Regions from separate parts of the Homo sapiens genome. Here regions 2 and 3 are each linked to region 1. Evidence: fine-mapped expression QTL. A gene starts in region 1. Each other region holds a variant in brackets. All regions are shown on one strand. Distances are between the middles of the regions.

Region 1 (6,985 bases):
TATTACTTTTGAAGCTTTACGATCCTACTCTGACTGAGCACTATTGATTTGATCGTGTTCAGAGATTCCCGCAGCCCCCTGTTCTGCCGGTTGTGGGGAGAGACAGGGATGTGGGTCCTTAGCTCTTTCAGCAGTGACATCAATTAAAGCCCTAAATCTGTGATATCCCCTATTCCAGCAACAATCCAATGGACTTTGATAACACCTTGATGTTCAGATCAACAGACATATCTGAGTTATTCGCCCAATGTCCTCATTTATTCTATGGAGCTGCAGGAGTCAGACTTGCCTCAACCACAGTAATTGATGGGGAGGACCAAGAAGTGACCTGCTAGTAATGTTTCCATCAAAAGGCCCCTTTTGGGTGTTGAACAAGACAGAAGAGAACTGGCAGGCTTCATTTAAAGGAACATGAAGGACAGAGTGGAGGGGGGCATTTGGTAAACCAGCTGGCCAGAGAGAGGAAAGGGCTATCAGGAATCTGTATAGCCCATTTAAGATTCCCAGCAACCCTATGTTGTGGGTACTATTCCGACCCAACAGACACTGAACCCAAGGCTCAGTGGACCTAAGGGCCTGCCTGAGATAGCCCAGCTGGAGTATGGTACCAGGTGATCCCAGTGGGGACTTGGGGACTTCTGGACCTCAGAATATTTATCATTGTTCCCCTGGCAACCTGGTCCATAGGCTGGGCCAGTCGTTCGCTGCTATTAAGCAGAGAGCTGGCTGAGTGAGTGGTGATGACACCAATTTAACCTGCTCATAGAGCTGGCCTACCTGCAGAAATTAATCACCTCACCTGCCACCTTGCCATTTGTGTACCTTGAAACTGGAGGGTGGAGCCCAAGAGATGCCCACAGGGTGGATAATTTTGACATGGGTAAGTGCCTGTGTTCTGGGAAGTTCAGGAATAACAGGGTGGGATCTCTTTCAGCACTCCCAGGGAGAAGAGCAACCATGGCCAAAGGTGAGACTTGGGTAGATTCCTTAGCCATCTGAGGATTTGGAAGACAATGAGATCTTGCCTTTGCTTAGTACTTTCTCAGGAACTCTCAATGGCCTCAAAAACTGATAAAGACAAGCTTGGCCTTGTTATTCCTGTTTTATAAAGAAACTCACTCGGGGTCTCAGGACTGCTAGGAGAAAACCAGAACCAAGCTGTTCCATCCCCTGGTTCATGCCCTCCCCACCACCACACATCACCAGCGTGAACCCTACTCCATGTCTACAGAGATCATGGCTGTGATAAGCACAAAGCCTGGAGTAAACCACCAGTTTATCCCTGACTCAAGGTGAAACTTTTTGGAGCATTTGTGGCTCTTATATGTATGTAAATTTTAGGAATACTAAATTTGAGGCATTTATTTATTTATTTAGAGACAAAGTTTTGCTCTTGTTGCCCAGGCTGGAGTGCAATGGTGCAATCTCGGTACACTGCAGCCTCCTCCTCCTGGGTTCAAACAATTCTCCTGCCTCGGCCTACTGAGTAGCTGGGATTATGGGTGCCCACCACCACACCCAACTAATTTTTATATTTTTAGTAGAGACAGGGTTTTGCCATGTTGGCCAGGCTGGTCTCAAACGCCTGACCTCAGGTGATCCGCCCACCTCAGCCTCCCAAAGTGCTGGGATTACAGGCATGAGCCACTGCGCCCAGCCTGAGGCAAATATTTAATCTCTTAACCTGTTCAGTGGTTGCTATTTAGTTAACATCGTATCTGGATTGTCCCATGGACATTCAAGAGGATGGAAAAGTCTACTGTGTTTGGAGAGCAGCAAGGGATAGGGACTATGTCTCTTGTTTCTTTTTCTTTCTTTCTTTCTTCTTCTTTTTTTTTTTTTTTGAGATGGAGTTTTGCTCTTGTTGCCCAGGCTGGGGTGCAGTGGCACAATCTTGGCTCACCGCCACCTTCACCTCCTGGGGTCAAGCGATTCTCCTGCCTCAGCTCCCGAGTAGCTGGGATTACAGGCACGCGCCACCACGCCCGGCTAATTCTGTATTTTTAGTACAGACGATGTTTCACCATGTTGGTCAGGCTGGTCTCGAACTCCCGACCTCAGGTGATCTGCCCGCCTCGGCCTTCCAAAGTGCTGGGATTACAGGCGTGTGCCACCGCGCCCGGCCGGGGCTGCTTCTTAACGCGAGAAATTCCATAATTTCTACGGAAATGCAAACGTTTCTGGGCTGTGCTGGGTTGACCTTTTTCTTTGCATGAGTAATGATTCTTAAAAACATCCGTTCCTTGGCCGGGTGCGGTGGCCCATGCCTATAATCCCAGCACTTTGGGATGCCGAGGCAGGCGGATCACGAGGTCAAGAAATCGAGACCATCCTGGCCAACATGATGAAACCCCCTCCCTACTAAAAATACAAAAATTAGCTGGGCGTGGTGGCGCGCGCCTGTAGTCGCAGCTACTCGGGAGGCTGAGGCAGGAGAATCACTTGAACCCAGGAGGTGGAGGTTGCAGTGAGCCTAGATCGCGCCACTGCACTCCAGCCTGAGGACAGAGCGAGACTCCATCTCAAAACAAAACAAAACAAAAATCCATTCCTCTATTGAGACAAAAAAGAAAAAAAATCACAAGATTCACGTGAAACGGAAAAGCCTCTGCCTTTCAGAACCTTGGCAAAGTCGAACCCCCTCCCCTCTCTGGTTGGGTTGGGCTGGAGAAGCCAGCCCCTGGCACCTGCGCCGCCCCTACCTTCCCACCCCGCGGTGGGGGTAGTTGTGCCTCTGAGCCTGAGCACCTCTTCAGCTGTTTTACTCCCTCCCCTCCCTTGAGTTTCCCATCTCTGCCCCCGCCCAACCCCCCGATTTTTAATCTTGGTGTTTGGAAGGAGGGAGGGGGCAAAAACGGGAGCCAGATGTGTACGAGTCCTCCGCTCCCGCCTCCTCCCTCCTCTCGGGCTTCCTAAAACCCGGAGCCCTAATCAAGGAGGATTCGGAGCCAGACGGTCGCGGCGCAAGCAAACAACTCGGCTCCGCGGCTCCCCCGGGAGTGGAAGCCAGGAGGGAGGGGGAGAGGAAGCGGGGCGTGCTCAGTAGGCGGGACAAAGTTTTTTTTTTTTTCTTCTCCCTTTTTTTCGGTCGCAAGTAGGAAGCTTTTTGCACTCCACCACCTCTGGCCGCTGGGAAGACGTCATCGCTTCCGCCCTACTTCCTCCTCCTGTTGGCGGCGGTGAGAATCCAATATGGAGTAAATCGGTGGAGTCGAGAGATGGGGCTCGGACGGGGCGCCCTGCACCGCCTCCCAGGCGCACCTCCCCCGGCCGCCGACCGCTCCCCGGAACCGTGATTGGCCCGGCCCCCCGGGGGCGACCCCGGACTGAGCCCCCCCACCCGCGGCCGGCGCTCTCCTCCTCCTCGCAGCAGTCCCTGCCGCTCCGAGGCGCGCTTGTTTTTCTCCTGCTCTCCCCCACCGCCGTCCCCTTCCCAAATCTCGCCCCCTCTGCCCGCTCCCGAGCCCCCGGAGCCTCCGCCCGCCTCTCCCCACGGCGCTGCGGCGTTCACTCCCCGCGCAGCCTGCCTTTGCACCCCTTCCCCCAAACCCTATCCCGCGCCCTGCTTCCCCTTCTGCTGCGGCGCCCTCTTCATCTCTAGCCGCCCCCCCTCCCCAAATCAGGCGATCTCCGGAGATGTGAAGAAGGGGGGCGAGCGGACAGGAAGATGAAGGGAGCAAAGCTGCCCGCCGCGGGACAGGCGTCTAGGTGAACAAGAAAATGACCGAAGAAACACACCCAGACGAGTAAGTTTGGTCGCGGGGTGGGACGAGGGTGCCCCTCAGGGGCAGCGTGGGGGCCGGGGCTGAGGATGCGGGCGGGGACGCTTATTGGGTGAACTTGGCGTGGGGTGCAGCGACTCGCTGACCTTTCGGCGTTGGGACGCGAGGCTTCCCTGCTTGTTGAAGTGAGGAGAGGGCAAAAACTGCTGCGGGCTGGCGGGCGCACGCCTAGGGTCGGCGGGCTGGTGGCAGCTCCGGGGGCCAAGGGCGTGCGGGTGACCTCCCGGCGGTCTCCGCTCCCTCTCGGAGGACTTACAGCTCCCCCGCCCCCGAAATCCTCGGCGGCTAGAGCGGAAGACCTGACACCCCCACTCCGGCTTCCCGGGGCTGGTGGGTTTTTGCACAGTGACTTTGTGACTCCCGCCGCCCCGCGAGCCCTGCAGTCCGCTCCGGAGCCCACTGGGGCCTAGGCTCCGCCATTTCGTTTTCTTGAATCGCTCTCATTTGCATACCACATTTTCATTCATAAAAAACACGGCGGAGCGAGAGGAGGACAGGCGCGGGCTGCGCGGGGGTCTGGTGCGCCAGGGTCCCCGCGCGGGCCGGCGTGCTGGAGCCGCCCGAGGGGCCCCGCGGCGCGTGAGTGCCTGTGCACGCGCTTGTGGCCGGCACACGCGTCCTGCGGGGTCGGGCGGCTCGGGGCGGACCGAGGCGTGTGCGGCGGGGGCGTGCGGGGCATCGCGCTGGGGGCGCGCGTGTGTGTGTGTGTATGTGAGTGTCCTCGCGGGTGCGCGTGCACGGGCTTGTGCCTGGCCCGCGGGCCCGAGGGGAACAATGCTCGGGGCGCTCCGCCGGAGGGATCCTGGGCCGCCCCGCGCGGGACCCGTGACTGTCGCCAGCCCGGGGCGGAGGTGCAGCTGCCTCCTGCCTCGCGGTCCAGGGGTCCAGTTTGGCATTTTCCCTCCCTGGTCTGAGGCGTTTTCAGTCTCGGGTGCGACGGGGGCGGGGCCGCGGGGCCCGACGCCTCAAGTCTTATGCCTGGGGTTTGAGCGGTCACCGCGCGGCGGCCGCCGCTGCTGCTCAGTGGCTGTGCCCGCCACCAGCCACTTTTTTTTTTTTGTGAATAAGACGCGCTCCTTTATTGTCACATGATATCCCTCCCCTCCTCCCCTGCACATTCATAAATCCGGAGCCTGCATCCGTTCCTTTCATTCAGTGCTGCCATTAGCCAAGGTAGCGGCGGCGCGGGCTTGGGCGCAAAGAGCTGGTTGGCAGCCGCGGGGACGCGCCCTGGAGGGAGGCCCCGCGCGCGTCTTTGCAGGGGAGTGTGGGCTTCGGAAGGCGTGCTCCGGAGGCCCCAGGTCTTTTGCCCCCCGCAGGCATTGAGCCTCAAGAGTGCTGGGAGGGGAAGTGACTCAGGGCTGGGCGACTGGGAGGCTTGTCTCTTGCAGCAGGTGACAGTGCTGTGCCCTACTCTAGGAAATCTACTCACTTTATTAAATATACCCCCTTTATCCTTTGGCGTCTGCTGTTGCCAGTCCGGGCGGGAGTGGGGCTGGTGTTTGGGAAAGGGAATTTCAGTTTCCTTCCTGTGAGTCCCCAGGGAACTTTGACTGCAGTAACCCCTGATCTTCCAGACAGCCGTCACAGGAGAGGATCCCTGCTGCTGTGCCTGTCGCAGACGTCCCACCGCATCTGCTGGTGTTTCTATTTCAGACGTTTTGCTTTGTCTTCGTATATAGCATCTTAAAATGGTAAAATGAAAAAAAGTTGCGCTTTTAGGGCTGAAATACAGAGAAGGAATATGCTGCTGGGCCTTGCTGCCTTTTGAACGTGACCAATAAATCAATATTTTTATGGGCCCTCGATTGTACCTGCACACAGAGTAGCAGTAGTAGCAGTGAGGCTGGTTGCTGTGCTCTGGCCTTGCAGATTCTTGGAGAGGTTTGACCACTCTACCTTGGCTCCACCCCTTGGGAATACAGGCCTGACCTGGCTCTTTTTGTGGCAGCTTGTCAGCCTTGCATCTTTCTCCATCTGCTATCCAAAGCAGAAGGATTTCGAGTGGGATCACCAGCGAGGAAAGAATAGCTCCATTTCAGGCTCTCAGAGCAAGTTCAGCATGAAGCCGTAGCCTCCACTGCTGTCACGAGTCCAGTTGAGAGGATAGATATTTGAGGAGTTCTAGTTTCACTTAGAGACTGAGAAAGCCTTGGCACCTTAGCCACTGAAGAAATGGGCTTATAGGGGTTATTTTTAATGTGATGACCTTGGCTCAAAACTTAAAATGCCTGAGAAGAAAGCGACTTCGTGGGCTGTAAACTGCCATGGTAGCCACTGTCTATTATTTTGTTCAACGTACCTGTGTAATGACGCATCTGAAAAATTCCTTTTAAATGTTAGTGACAGTAAGGTTTTTCTCTCTGAATTACAGAGCTTGCTGTGATTGCTTTTTTGTTGTTTTATTGTTGTTTGCTGCCACTGTCTTTAAGTCTAGAGCTAAAATTATTGTTTGATTAAGGTAGCCATATTTGGTTAGATTTTTGCTAGATTCCTACTTTGGGTGAATTTGATCTGTTTTTTTCTTGTAATGATTTTATGTTTGAGGTCTCTCAGATACCTTTGGAACCAGGCAGGGTTTGCTACTTAAGAGAACTGGTGGCATCAAACTGGAGACCTAGGAAAGATATATTTGTACTTTAGGTAAAATAGACTTGATAGTCTACATGTAGTAAAGGTTTTGTTGAATGGTCCAGATAATATCTGTTTCATTTAGCATCAGAATGCAGTAAATCAGAATCTTGCAAATGGTAAAATTGTGCTTAATTTAAAAAAATAATGTTTTGTTTTCTAATGTTGTTTTCCATGTCAATTTAAAATTCTTCTAATATATGGTAATTCAGGAAAGTTTCTTTGCTCTTGTTGATAATGGTCCCAAAAGATATCTTCCATATAGAAAATACACTGACCATTCTCTTTCGTCCCCCCTCCACATAAAAATGCATGTTAAAATTTACAATTATACAGACTTTTAAAAATATAATTTAAGAAGCGAAGAGCATCAGCAAACTATTGTAAGTCGTCCTCTGTGCATAGGGTTGGAAAATTTTTTTAAATCCATACCTATTTTGTCACTATCTTTAAAGCGTTTGATCATGGCTATGAATGGTTTGGAAATTTGCAGACAAGATAAACCTTACTGAACCAAGCTCTAACCCTGGAGACATCGAGCTGCCATTCAGCTTTTTCTTTTGTTCCTTTCA
Region 2 (6,985 bases), 110 kb after region 1:
ATATTTTCTATTTTGTATACAAAATACTTTGTATTTTACAAAGATGGGGTTTCACCATGTTGACCAGGCTGGTCTCCAACTCCTGACCTCAGGTGATCCATACCCCTTGGCCTCCCAAAGTGCTGGGATTACAGGCATGAGCCACTGCACCTGTCCTAATCCTGTGGTTCTTGAATCAACTAAGCAACGGGCTTAGTCCAACTCCTCTAACCTGTAATGTTCTTAGGAGCAGGTGAGAGGCATTGCACATGAAATTGTTAGGGCTCAAACAGACCTTGGAAATCATCTAGTTCAACTCCCTCATTTTACACATGAGAAAACTGAGGCCCCCAAAAGTTAAACAACTTGTCCAAGATATCTGGCCTGGCCTGAAATTGAGGTTTTCGAATCTCCCTGTATAGTGCTATTTTTGCTTAGCAGTGCTACATGATTCCTGAATGATGTGGTCTAGCTCCTTAAGCAGTTTCTTTAACATTGTTTTCTATGGCCCTATTCAAAACACGTAGGCCCACTGATCTCCCAAATGGGCTGGTCAGAGAGGGCTTGGCTCTTTGCACATTGTGATTTCTGCAGTCAGCCCTTGTGTTCCTGGGAACATGAGGATGATGAAGTGGCTGTACTTGTTTCCTTGCCTCTTGAGAGGAGGGGTTTGTCCCTTTTATCTCCCTCCCTAAGAAGAAGGAAGAAATTACACATTGCCAGCCCTCTAATAGTCTCACCCATGTACTGGATGGGAGCATCCTACTTGAGAAGGCTGTGAACCAGGTGCCCCTTGATAATAATTCCAAGTGTCCTTGAGAAAACAGCCCAGGCACACCTTTTCTTTCCCATAGCACTTTTTGCCAACTGTTGCCTCCTTGTCCTCTGCCCCTACCCTCTTTTAGAAAGCAAAGGTTTAGCAGGAAAACCTAGAGGACTTGAAGGGATGCGCATAGTACTGAAAAGACCTGCGAAATGTGAACGTTGAAATCTGTCCGGCTCGTCCTGAAGACACAGAAAGTGCCCCCAAAAAGTCCTGGGTCAGCAGCCAGGATTCCATCCCAGAATGGACAATTTAAGCAACCTGTCTCCTCAGCTCGTCTGGCCTGGTGGTTCCTTCCCTCCCTCCTTGAGCTTCCCTTGGTCAGAGAGGTGGCCTTCTACATGAAGAAGGTTCATTCTTGGACCCAGGGCGTGTGAGCTGCTGCACTTGCTTCTTTATGAATTTCCCAGTAAACTCAAGGTCCCTCCATAAGAGAGGGAAGAGTAGCCAAGCTTCCAAGAACAAGAGATCATATTGTACAAAAAAGGCTCATACAGCAGGAGGGAGCTGGCTCAGGTTTAACCTGAGGTGTTGCCCTGTTAGTCTCGTTTCTCCATTCAGGCTGATTCCCACCCAAACCAGACAGCATTGACCTTGGGGAAACTGCCAGTCCATTAGCCCAGGCAGTTTCAGCCCAGTGTCTTTTGCACTCAGATTTTGATTGATTGTCAAGCCATCATAACATTAAGGTCCATTATTATTTTTTAAAATTCTGTCTCAAGTTTTGAAGCTCCATGGAGTTGCTCTCATTTGTCATCAAACTCTAGAGTTATGGGAAATATCTGAATTCTCAAAATAAGTACAGCCTGTGTCTATAGAATCTGGCAACTGGAAGCCTGCTCTTTTTTTGGAGATGTTGATCAGATGTTCACTGATAAACTTGAGCCCCCTTTTCTTCCTCTGGTCTACCCATCTAGAATGCTATGACCCATCTCAGACACACCCCTCTGGGAAGCTGCCTGACTCTGACCAGTGCTCTGAGGCCTGGTGCTTGAGGACTGCTCACCTGGCCTTGCCTCTTCCCGTGCCACGTGGCATCTCCCCCAACAACATGGTCACTTTCTGTGTCTGAGCCCACATCCCGCAAAGCACCCAACCCAAACCCAGAAACCCTTCTGGGAAGGGATGGATTTTTTTGAGACGGAGTCTTGCTCTGTCGCCCAGGCTGGAGTGCAGTGGCGCGATCTCGGCTCACTGCAACCTCTTCCTCCCACGTTCACGCCATTCTCCTGCCTCAGCCTCCCGAGTAGCTGGGACTACAGGTTCCTGCCACCACGCCCAGCTAATTTTTTGTATTTTTAGTAGAGACGGGGTCTCACCGTGTTAGCCAGAATGGTCTCGATCTCCTGACCTCGTGATCTGCCCGCCTCAGCCTCCCAAAGTGCTGAGATTACAGGCGTGAGTCACCGCGCCTGGCCAGGGATGGATTTTTTTTTTTTTACTACCATAGAGGATTTGGACAGGCCAGCCCTGTCCCTGTTTCTTGTTTTTTTAAATGTTGGCAGTGCCCACTTTCATTTCTGTACCCTCTGACACCTGCTTTCACCCCCTTCCCTTCTCTTTTCTTACTCTCTCCTTTCTGGGTTCTTCCTCATCAAAGGCTTGTCTCAGCTCACTGCCCTGTTAGAGGGCTTTAGAAACCAGGTCACACAGAGCTTGTTATTTGCTACTCAAAGTATGTGGTTTTTTTATAGTTACCATAGAAAAATTTGACAGTGGGCCAGGTGCAGTGGCTCATGCCTGTAATCCCAGCACTTTGGGAGGCTGAGGTGGGCGGATCACCTGAGGTCAGGAGTTGGAGACCAGCCTGGCCAACATGGCGAAACCCTGTCTCTACTAAAAATATAAAAAATTAGCCAGGTGTGGTGGCACGTGCCTGTGGTCCAGCTACTCAGGAGGCTGAGGCATAAGAATCGCTTGAACCCAGGAGGCGGAGGTTGCGGTGAGCCAAAATTGTGCCACTGCACTCCAGCCTGGGCGACAGAGCGAGACTCTGTCTCAAAAAATAAATAAATAAATCACATCACATATTAGTAAGGCATATTTAGTGAAAGACCGGTAGAATGTATCTGAGGAATGCAAAGAAGGTTTATGTTGGAAAAGCTGTTTAATTCACATATTAATAAAATAAAGGTGAAAGATTTTGTAATCATCTCAGTAGACAGAAAAATCATCTAATAACATCTAATATCTGGTGAAAATCCTTAGCAATCTAGAATAGAAGGAAACTTTTGGAACTTTATAATCACTCCAATTACCTAGAAATATTATATCTAATAGAAATTCATTAGAAGTAATTCTATCAAAGTCAGGTTCAAGACAAGCAGGACACTGTCCCCTCTGTTTTTCCATGTCATGTTGGAAGCCCTGGCAAAAGATGCAATGAGGTAAGAAGAAGATGGTATAAATATTGGAAAGGAGGCCGGGCACGGTGGCTCACGCCTGTAATCCCAGCACTTTGGGAGGCCAAGGCAGGTGGATAACGAGGTCAGGAGATTGAGACCATCCTGGCTAACAAGGTGAAACCCCATCTCTACTAAAAATACGAAGTATTAGCCGGGTGTGGTGGCAAGTGCCTATAGTCCCAGCTACTTGGGAGGCTGAGGCAGGAGAACGGCGTGAACCTAGGAGGCAGAGCTTACAGTGAGCCGAGATCGTGCCACTGCACTCCAGCCTGGGCAACGGAGCAAGACTCCGTCTCAAAAAAAAAAAAAAAAATA[T/A]ATATATATATATATATATATAGAGAGAGAGAGAGAGAGAGAGAGAGAGAGAGAGAGAGAGAGGAAAGGAGACCAAACTATCTTTTGTGAGCAAAATGATTTACTTAGAAAAATCTAGTTTCATAAGGGAGCTAAGCAAAACAACCAGATACAGGATCAACATACAGAATCAGTAACTTTCATATACCAGCAGTCACAGTTTAAAATAGAAATTTTTAGGCCAGGCGTGGTAGCTCATCCCTGTAATCCTGGCACTTTAGGAGGACAAGGTGGGCAGATTGCCTGAGCTCAGGAGTTGGAGACCAGCCTGGGCAACCTGGTGAAACCCCATCTCTACTAAAAAAATCAAAAAATTAGCCAAACGTGTTGGCACGTGCTTGTAATCCCAGCCACTCGGGAGGCTGAGGCATGAGAATCGCTTGAACCCAGGAGGCGGAGGTTGCAGTGAGCTGAGATTCCGCCGCTGCACTCCAGCCTGGGTGACAGATCAAGGCTCTGTCTCAAAAAAATGTATAGCAAAATAGAAATTTTAAATCCCATTTTATTTTTGCCATAACCCCAAGGAAGATTTTGGCCCAATTTTACAGATGTAAACACTGGAGTTAGAGATTAACTTGACCAAAATCATCTTATAATTAGCAGAGAATGATTCAAATCTAATCTGCCTGAGCTGAGACCCTGTTGTTTTTAGCATTGTAATACTCCCCTCGTTTCTGTTGTTCAGTGCCTCATATTAGGTTGCACACTTCTTAATTGGACATCTTTTTTTTTTTTTTTTTTTTTTTTTTAGACAGGGTCTTGATTTGTTGCCCAGGCTGGTCTCGAACTCTTGACTTCAAGCGATCCTCCTACCTCAGCCTCCCAAAGCGCTGGGATTACAGGCATGAGCAGCTGCACCCAGCTGGACATCTTTTTAGCAACAGGCATTGACATTGAGTCAGAGTCAAACCCAAAGGCAAGAGTGTTTTTAGAGGGTACATTTGCAGGTGGCAAGGGCTGTGCTCCCTGCATCATAGTGCACAAGACCTCCCAGTGTCAGCTGGGGCCAGATGGCAATGCCAGCCTCAGTGTCCACAGCAGGAGACATTAAACGCCCACTCTGACCTGCTCTCTCAGGATGCTGCAGTCATGCCTTCTAGGAGCCTGAAGTCCCCGAGCACAGAGTAGTCACAGGGGACCTCTGCTTTTGTTCTTCAAAGCCCTAACAGTTCTTAGACCCCCACTGGAGAGCAAGGGGAGTGTAGATACAGTTGGGAGCATGTGATTGCCAACTTTTTCATTGAAGGTGACAGCTTTCAGATTGGTAGGTTGGTAGGTGTCAGTAGCTTGTGCACAGAAATAACAGAGAGATGTTTAAGAATCTTGCTTGTGTATTAGGTATGTGCATACCTCAGGTGGGCTGCTTTTCTGCAGCCCACGGAAACCAGGGCAGAGTTATAGGAGAGCCAGTTCAGAGGTGCATGAGGGTAAAAGGAGATTTTTTTTCCCCTTTGCCTTTCTTGGAGATGCCCTGGTAGTACATTCCTTTTGTTTGTAGGTCACACTAGCTGCTTTGTAAGAATCATCTGTTAGTATCCATCTGAAATAGCCTTGGCTTCCAATGGAATCTTCTGGGAGTTCAGACAACCCTGAACAGCTGGGCCTGGAAGACTGCAGGCTCGGCTAGGACGCAACCTCAGCTCTGCCCTCAGGAGGCAGTAGACTGTGGACATGCCTCTCGAGGTCTTCTGGCCTTCTTGCTTCACTGTAGAAATTCGTCATCAGATAAGGCCTTTCTCAGTCTCACATCCTCTGACAAATGTCTGGGGAGCTTTGCACTGGACTGTGCAGGGAGAGAGGGCTGGGGAGGTGGGATGGGAATATCGGAAGGTAGCATTTCTGATCGACTAATGAGTCCTAGGAAAAGCCGGATGTGCCTCATTTCTCAGAAGGACTTTCTACACATTGTTAACCCAAAAGTGGGTCACAGAAAATAGGCTGAGTTAGGGTGAACAGATGACTAACACAGTGGTGACCGTGGTGTGTTAAATGGGCTTCTGAGAACTAAGTACTGAGAGCTTATTACAATGTTCAACACAAGGCTAACTTCTAACCTAATAGATGACTGTAACGTGGCTGTTGGATAAGAATTTAACTCTTGAGATTTGAATCACACTGAAAGGCCCTGATTACTCATTTGAGAGGTATTTATTGAGATCTGTAGTAACCTTTGTACTGTGAGACATCATCTCCTCATCTCCTGGGTTTGTATACAGCAGGGTGTACCTTGTGACTTGGAGAAGTTGTGTTTTGTGTTAATCTCAACAAAATACCTCTTAGCATAGGAGCTGGAAGTGGACTTACCTGGCTGTGAGAGGCAGCAGTGTGTGGGGCCTATTAGAAATCTCCCTGGGCTTTGTGGTCAGGGAGGCTGCATTTCAGTCCCAGCTCTGCCAGTGACTGTGCTGCCATGGCCTGGATTCACCATCTCTCAGAGTCCCTTAGTGCCAGTGTGTGACATGGAGATAGTGTTTTACCTGTGACCTGCTGGCCATGCTGAGGAACCGTGTCCACAAGTAGCTCAGGGCCTGGCACACCATAAGCACTCACACATATGACACCAAGAAGAGTTGTTTGTGAGGAAGAGGAGGGAACCTGGGGAGGAGTAAGGGGTAGAGAGAAGCCAGGAGTGTGGTGCCTGTGGGACTGCTTTGGAAGGAATCCATAGTGAAGGGAAAGTGCACCCAAGTGACAAACCCAGTGTATTCTGGCTTAAGTCACAAAAGAGAATTGGTGTCATCATTGGGACATCCTCGAGTGGTCAGGATTCAGGCTTGGCTGGATCCAGCAGCTCAAAGGGACTAAGGGTGGCTTCTCTTGCTCCCATCCTCAGACAAGTCCTTTCCCCACACCCGTGCCAGGATTCAAGGCTTATAGGACCCTTAGATCTTGATTACAGAAATGGAGACAGCTGCTTTTCTGACCGCTCTGTCAAAAGTCTCTCTATATTGCTTCGGAGAGCACCGTGTGTTCATATTGAAATTAGTCACCATGGCTTGGGGGATCAGAAGCAGGCATCAGCCATGCATGGCATAGACCAAACCCAAGTAGAGAAACATCCAGGAGGGTTGGGTCTCCAGAGGGATGCTGCACATGTGGACCAAGGTGTAAAAACTAACAATGCTTATGTTGCATAATGGAAATATGGGTGTGTTTTTCCTAAATTCTTGTAGTGCTTTTTTTCTAAGTATGTACTACTTTATAAATGAGAGGAGGATAAAAAGAACTTTTGTAAGTCTATTTGTTTTGCCCTTGTCCCTAAAATGATTTATGATAGCTAACAAAAACATGTAAAGTGATAGATAAGTCAGGGTATGGTGGCTCATGGCAGTAATCCCAGCATATTGGGAGGCCAAAGCAGGAGGATCACTTGAGCCCAGGAGTTCAAGACCAGCCTGGGCAACTTGGCAAGACCCCCGTCTCT
Region 3 (6,985 bases), 25 kb after region 1:
GTTAAGAGACAAGGTCTCACTGCATCATCCAGGCTGCAGTGCAGTGGCATGATCAAAGCTCACTGCAGCCTCGAACTCCTGGGCTCAAGTTATCCTCCTGCCTCAGCCTCCCAAAGCATAGGTATTACAGGCGTGAGCCATTACGCCTGGCCTTGCACAAGATGTTATACTTTTTTTTTGCATTTAAAATTATTCTTTTTTTTTTTTTTTTCCGAGGCAGAGTCTCACTCTGTTACCAAGTTGGAGTACAGTGGTGCAATCTTGGCTCACTGCAACCTCCACCTCCCTGGTTCAAGCGATTCTCCTGCCTCAGCCTCCCAAGTAGCTGGGACTACAGGCACGCGCCACCACACCTGGATAATTTTTGTATTTTTAGTAGAGGGTTTCACCATATTGGCCAGGATGGTCTTGATCTCCTGACCTCGTGATCCGCCCGCCTTGGCCTCCCAAAGTGCTAGGATTACAGGCGTGAGCCACCATGCCCAGCCTAAAATTTCTCTTGAAAGTCTTCATCAGAACACAAAATTCTTTTTTTTTTTTTTTTTTTTTTGCAGGAAACTGGAGTTTTATTAGCACTCAAATCAGTCTTGCCAGGAAACAAAATTCTTGTTACTAGAAGTGAGGATGTCAAGGTGGCTTTATTCATTTTTAAATAGTGCATGAGATGTAAATTGCTAAAAGCTGTGTTATTATAGGGAGGCAGTAGAACTTGGTAAAATCATAGGATTTAGACTAGTGCTGTCCAATAGAAATACAACATAGGCCACATATGTAATTTTAAATGTTCTGATAGGGGTGTTAAAAAAGTAAATAGAAACAGGTGAAATTAATTTTAGTCTATTATTTAGTGTATCTAAAAATTCTCATTTCAACAGTTAATGTTTTAAATTGCTAATGAAGTATTTCACATTCTTTTTTTGTACTACACCTGCAAAATGCCGCTTGTATGTTATAATTGGAGCACATCTCCATTTTCATGTGCTCAGTGCCACTTGTGGCTGCTGGCTGCTACTGTGTTAGACAGTACCTCTTAGACTAGGACAGACCTGGGTGTGAATTTCCCTTTGCTGCTTATTAGCTGTGCGACCAGTGTTAAATTACCTGAACCTTTCAAAAACTTCAGTGTCCTTGAATATAGAAAAAGGGCTCATAATACTTCCTTTTCTGGGCTGTTGTATTAAGTCAGTTGATTTATGTGCATAAAGGTCTGGGGTCGATGAAGAGGTGATCTGTAAATGACATCTGTGACTTTTGAGATATCTACAGGTAATTGTGGTCTCACACAGGCTAAGGACTATAGGATATAAGGGTTATGATGAAAGGCAGAATTAGGGCAATATTTATGGGCTATTAAGAACTTTAGAGCCAGGTGCAGTGGCTCACGCTTGTAATCCCAGCACTTTGGGAGGCCAAGGCAGGCGGATCACAAAGTCAGGAGTTCAAGACCAGCCTGGCCAGTATAGTGGAACCCCATCTCTACTAAAAATACAAAAATTAGCTGGGTGTGGTGGCACGTGACTATTGTCCCAGCTACTCAGGAGGCTGAGGCAGAAGAATTGCTTGATCCCAGAAGGCAGAGGTTGCAGATCGCGCCACTGCACTCCAGCCTAGGTGACAGAGTGAGACTCCGTCTCAAAAAAAAAAAAAAGAACTTCAAAAGTCCCCTTATGTAACTGACTAATTCCTGTGGCTGGCGACTGGGATTATACATACAGACATTGGAAGGGGGCTCTGGTTCTGGTCCGAGCAATTTGCCTGGAGCTCTATGATCAATTCAGAGAAGAAGGGATACAAGGAATTCCTACAGGAATCTGTGGCATCATAAAAACAGCTTCTGCCTCAAAGTCAGGGGAGCTGATTTTGAATTCTGACTCTACCTTATACTGCATATTTATCTTCCCAAACTTTAGCTTTCTTGTCTGTCAAATAGGACTCATAGTATGAGGCTTGTGAGGATTAAATTACATGTAGCACATGAAAGTGTCCGCAGCAGTGTCTGACATGTTTGAGGTGCCTAATACATGCCGGGTGATCATTACTGGTGTCTGGAAAGAAGTTTCAGCCTAAAGCTTTGTTGAAAGGACCCAAGGTCTGGGCAGAAGGGAAGGATCTTGCTCCTCTGATAAGATCTTAAGAAGATGGAACCAGCAGGCAAGGAGAGAAGCTCAAGAGACTGGTTTTATGAGGAGCTGAAATCAGACTGATGGGTAAAAGGAAGATAGCCTGGGTTGGTGGCCTATTAGGGAATGCCTCTCTACACAGGGACCATGTCATAATCGTTTTGATAACATTCTTTCTTCTTGCCCCTTTAGACCTCTGGCTCCCTTGCCCAGCTTTTGATATTTTGTTGTTGTTTGTTCTGAGAAGTAAAAATATAGCTAGAGCTTTGCACTCGGTCATGTTAGTATTTTAAGACACTCCCAAGAGTGGAAGAGAGAACTGTCCTCCAGTTGGAGTTATGGGGAGGTTCCCTGTGCTCCACCTTTCCCACCCTTTTCTGTCTACCTGTGTGCACGGAGGCATGAGTGGATACCGCGTCTCCACGGGTGAAAGGACAAGTGATCCAGCTGAGGAGAGTTGATCTTTTGGTTTAACCAAACCAGACACCCAAACCTAGATTTCCAAGGCATGTGAACAGGGATGTGCATGACAGTCATTGACATGAAGACTCAGAATGAGATAAGCTTTAAGTTGGCAGCACTTCCCACCCCCTGCAGAGAGGAAGTTTGCATGCCATGCACCTACCTTCTTGATTGCAGCTCTCATGGCTACACAGCAATAGATTAGAACCCCCTCGTGCTGAATCTTGACTTGATGAAGACAATCAAAATGCCCCCCAAAATGCCCCCCAATACACAACACACGCACACACACACACCTGCAGCCACCTCAGTTTCCTGTTAAGTTATTGTGGTTTGGGAGTCTTCATTGTCAGTTCACATTAGCTGTGAAGTCAGAATCCTTCTGTCATGGGACTTTTAGCAAAAAAAAAAAAAGGAGCCAGCGCCCCATTTGAGAAAGAGACTATGGCTCACACCTGTAATTCCAGCACTTTGGGAGGCCAAGGCGGGCAGATCATGGGGTCAGGAGATCGAGACCATCCTGGCTAACATGGTGAAACCCCATCTCTACTAAAAATACAAAAAATTAGCCGGGCATGGTGGTGGGTGCCTGTAGTCCCAGCTACTCAGGAGCTGAGGCAGGAGAATGGCGTGAACCCAGGAGGTGGAGCTTGCAGTGAGCCGAGATGGCACCACTGCACTCCAGCCTGGGCGACAGAGCGAGACTCCGTCTCAAAAAAAAAAAAAAAGAGAGACTAAACTTTCCACTGTCCAGTAACTTGGACCAGAGCCC[T/C]GCCTGAGCCTCCAAGGCAGGCAGCTTGATGGAGGGCCCTGCCTCACTCTCAAGGCTGAGCTCTCAGGAAAGGTGGATTTTATCTCTAAGGAAGTGCGGCTGCCTTTATCAGGCCATTCTGGTGGAACAGGTTAGCTTCCTGCAAGGGTGGAAAGGAAAACGATGTTACTATTTTTAGCCTGCCTCTTGTGTACAGCAAGGTGGGCTGATGTGCTAAGCAGAAGGAAAGTGAAGTGTGAGTTGCTTTCTGCCCCCAACCTTCCATTTCCACCCCTACTTCCCAAAACCTCCCCCAGAGGTGGAATGTCAGGACATCTCACATGTGGTGCACGAAGAGTATAATGACCAACTTTATTTCTACAACTAGTGAGGCTCCTTGTCACTGCCTTTCTAAAAGCTTGCAGTCTTACAAACAAACTTGTGTGCACAGACATGAGTGGATAAAATATTGGGTCCTGCCTAGCAAAACCAGGATCTTTGATTTGGGGGGAAGGGTTGGTGTTGCTCTCTGTTAACATTTCCATTTATTCTTGACCTCTATAAAGAGTAAATTATAAGAATGGGGTGGGAGGATTGGAAAGTTGGTGGATGGTAAGTTTGGGTGTCAAGTATTAAGAAATCCTGGCTTCTCAGCATTTTCTTTGCAGGGCACATTTAGCAGAATTTTCTGCCTCCAGCAGGGTCTTTGTGGCTCTGAAGGACCTGCCACCGTGGGGTGGTTCGCTTTTATAATCTCATGGTAGCACTCTCAGCCCAAAGAAGTGTCATCACCAACATAGAGGCCAGGAGCACCATTTAACAGATGAGGACTCTGAGGCCTGGGGAGTTAAACCCAGGTCACACAGTTGGATAGTGGGAGAGTCTGGTTGCCTGGTTGTTTTTCTACAGGGCTCCTCCAAATGAGTGCCAGGAAGAAAGTGCGGGGGTGTTCTGCCCATTGCAAGAGGGTCAGCTTGGAGAAATAGGTTTGAATTATGGAGTGCCTGACAGAAAGTGGGAACAGTCACTTAGCAAAGAAGTCCGGGTCTTCTCAAATAGGAGTGCTCTGGGTGGGAGGAGAAGGGCTGGTAAGCCTGAGGACTTGTGGAGGAGCTCAGATGTAGCTGCTTAAATTAGTTCAAAGTGAGAAATGTAATTACTATACTTGCTCAAACCAAATGTCTGAACATTGTTATAAAATGAGGTGTAATCACAGAAAAGAGGATTGCAGTGCCGTATCACTCCCACAAAATAGCCTTTGTGTTCTCAGGAGCCCCATGGTGCTGATTAATCTTCTGGGGGCGTTGAAGCCCCAGTAAGTTCAGGTGTGTGTATTGGACTTAATTGGGGGAGTTTTGTCCTGCTCGTTTGGACAGTCATTCACAGTTATTTGCATTTGTAATGAGTGTGTGATGAGAGGGGGAAAAGACTCAGCCTTAAACATGTTAGCTAGGAATATTTGGGATCAGAATAAAATAAGATCCAAGCAAGAGGGAAAATCGAGGATGATTTGCAGCAATTTGTCCTTGTTAACTGCTATTTGAATGATAAAAGGAAGGTTGAAAAGGACATTTCAGTAACTCCCTGGATAACGACTTCCTCTATCACTATCACTATATATCACCTCAATGACTATGTCATCTCCATGCTCTTCTCCACCAAGGTGGAAAGTACCATAAGAAGGTCATTAAGTCCTGATTCTGCCACTTGTTGGTCATGAGACGTAGGGTAGTGACATAAACGCTAAGCCTTAATTTTCTCTCCTGGAAAATGGGCTGATGTATATACATTTAGATGAGCTAATGCTTGGCACATAAGAAAAGCACACGGTAAATATTAGCAAATTGTCATTATTGTCATAATTATTGTTTATAGTATCTCTACAACGTGTTTATAACGTGTGACAGAAGAAAAACACCTTGCCAGATGTAGTCACAAGGCAGGAGGGAAAGTGAGGAATTAAAGGCCTGTTAGGGAGCAGGTGCCTGGAGCTAAGTGAGGTTAGATCATAAAAGGGCCCAGGGGTGTGCTGTTGTTGGGGGAGGTGTTTGTTTGGCAGAAGGGAAAGGTGGTCTGTTCATGCTGGGGAGGTAGTACATGGATAACTGGGCTGTGCCCTCATTTGTAAGAAACAGGCACGTGTTTTTTATAGACCTACAGCCAGTCCTGTTTGCTCGCTAGGTGGCTTCTCTTTGATCTTGTGTCCCAAAGTTGGGGGTCTGTTGACACTCCAGCTCCTGGGGACCCCAGGTCCCCTCTCTCTGCACAGGAGGCAAGGTGTCTGCCTGTTTTACTCATTGCTGTCTTCAGTGCCTGGCATAATAGAGGCTCAAGAAGTATCTGCTGAATGAATGAATAGGGTATAGTATGAATGAATATCTGCATTAAATTATGTGCTCCTAGAGAAAACTCCCTGAGAAACTCATTACTGAGACTGTTTAGCCATCCAATAAAGAGATGAGAGGAGATTTTGAAACAACTTGGTTTGGCATAGACAAGTAGTATATACTTGCGCTTATATCTAGTTTCCATGCAGTTCACTAATACATGTAATATATATGGTTAACTTTGTGAGTATATTTGATTACAGACTTTCCCTTTATTTAACATGGTTGCCTGCCTACACATAATTCTTAAAACAATTAAGGAGAACATTACTAGCACAAATGTTTCTTCTTTTTCTTTCTTTCTTTTTTTTTTTTTGAGACGGAGTCTCACTCTGTTGCCCAGGCTGGAGTGCAGTGGCGTGATCTCGGCTTACTGCAATCTCCGTCTCCTGGGCGTTCAAGAGTTCTCCTGCCTCAGCCTCCTGAGTAGCTGGGACTACAGGCATCCGCCACCATGCCCAGCTAGTTTTTGTATTTTTAGTAGAGACGGGGTTTCACCATGTTAGCCAGGCTGGTCTCTAACTCCTGACCTAAGGTGATCCACCTGCCTCGGCCTCCCAAAGTACTGGGATTACAGGAGTGAGCCACCACACCTGGCCACAAATGTTCCTTTTTAGGAAACTGATTCTCCTGCTGCTTCTGGAGTAGAGTGTTGTATATGAAATTTTGAGCATGATATTCACCTAATTATGGCTCAGAACAGGCAGTACCAAGCACCTGAGGTCTAGGCCTTTCAGACCAGTGCTTTGATATGCATGTGAGTCACGTGGGGTCTTCCTGCTAAGTTGCAAGTTCCCATTCAGCAGGCCTGGGGTGGGGCCTGAGATGGTGCTTTTTTCTTCAGCTTTTGGGTGCTGCCCATGATGCTACTCCTTGGACTACATTTCCACTAATGCGATTTCAATTAGTCTTTAGTATTTTGAGGATTTCTTTGTGTCGTAAAAATGTCTATCCCAGATGGGCGTAGTGGCTCACGCATGTAATCCCAGCATTTTAGGAGGCCAAGGTGGGGGGATTGCTTGAGCCCAGGAGTTCAAGACCAGCCTGGGAAACTCCACTTATACACAAAGTTTTAAAAAAATTATCCAGGTGCAGTGGCACACGCCTGTAGTCCCAGCTACTCAGGAGGCCGAGGCAGGAGGATCACTTGAGCTCAAGAGTTCGAGGCTGCAGTGAGCTTTGATGCATGCACCACTGCACTCCAGCCTGGGCAACAGAGTGAGACCCTGTCTTTTAAAGGAAATGGATGTCTATCTGATCTTATT

Alleles and levels. Alleles are on the strand shown, and positions count from the first base shown. SD is a standard deviation of normalised expression in the study named. Not every link is listed here.
In carriers of allele T in region 2, the expression in lymphoblastoid cells of the gene that starts at base 3,109 in region 1 tends to be lower than with A alone (large effect, 1.2 SD a copy in GENCORD).

Evidence for each region.
Region 2: its variant is fine-mapped to the expression of SPRED2 in lymphoblastoid cells (GENCORD, PIP 0.95).
Region 3: its variant is fine-mapped to the expression of SPRED2 in anterior cingulate cortex (GTEx, PIP above 0.99).

Annotation. Positions count from the first base shown.
Region 1 is chr2:65,428,723-65,435,707 of GRCh38, reverse strand. SPRED2 (sprouty related EVH1 domain containing 2) reads left to right here and starts at 3,109. Exons shown (of 6, transcript NM_181784.3): 1 at 3,109-3,746. The coding sequence starts at 3,721. RefSeq lists silencers at 3,207-3,406, 4,177-4,226, 4,257-4,766.
Region 2 is chr2:65,318,830-65,325,814 of GRCh38, reverse strand. The region is part of intron 4 of SPRED2 (sprouty related EVH1 domain containing 2); the gene reads left to right. Among named protein-coding and RNA genes, the nearest start is that of ACTR2, 94 kb to the right of the region's middle. RefSeq lists an enhancer at 2,237-2,326. The variant T/A (reference allele first, on the strand shown) is at 3,523.
Region 3 is chr2:65,403,257-65,410,241 of GRCh38, reverse strand. All of the region lies in intron 1 of SPRED2 (sprouty related EVH1 domain containing 2), which reads left to right. Among named protein-coding and RNA genes, the nearest start is that of SPRED2, 26 kb to the left of the region's middle. RefSeq lists an enhancer at 3,253-3,302. The variant T/C (reference allele first, on the strand shown) is at 3,355.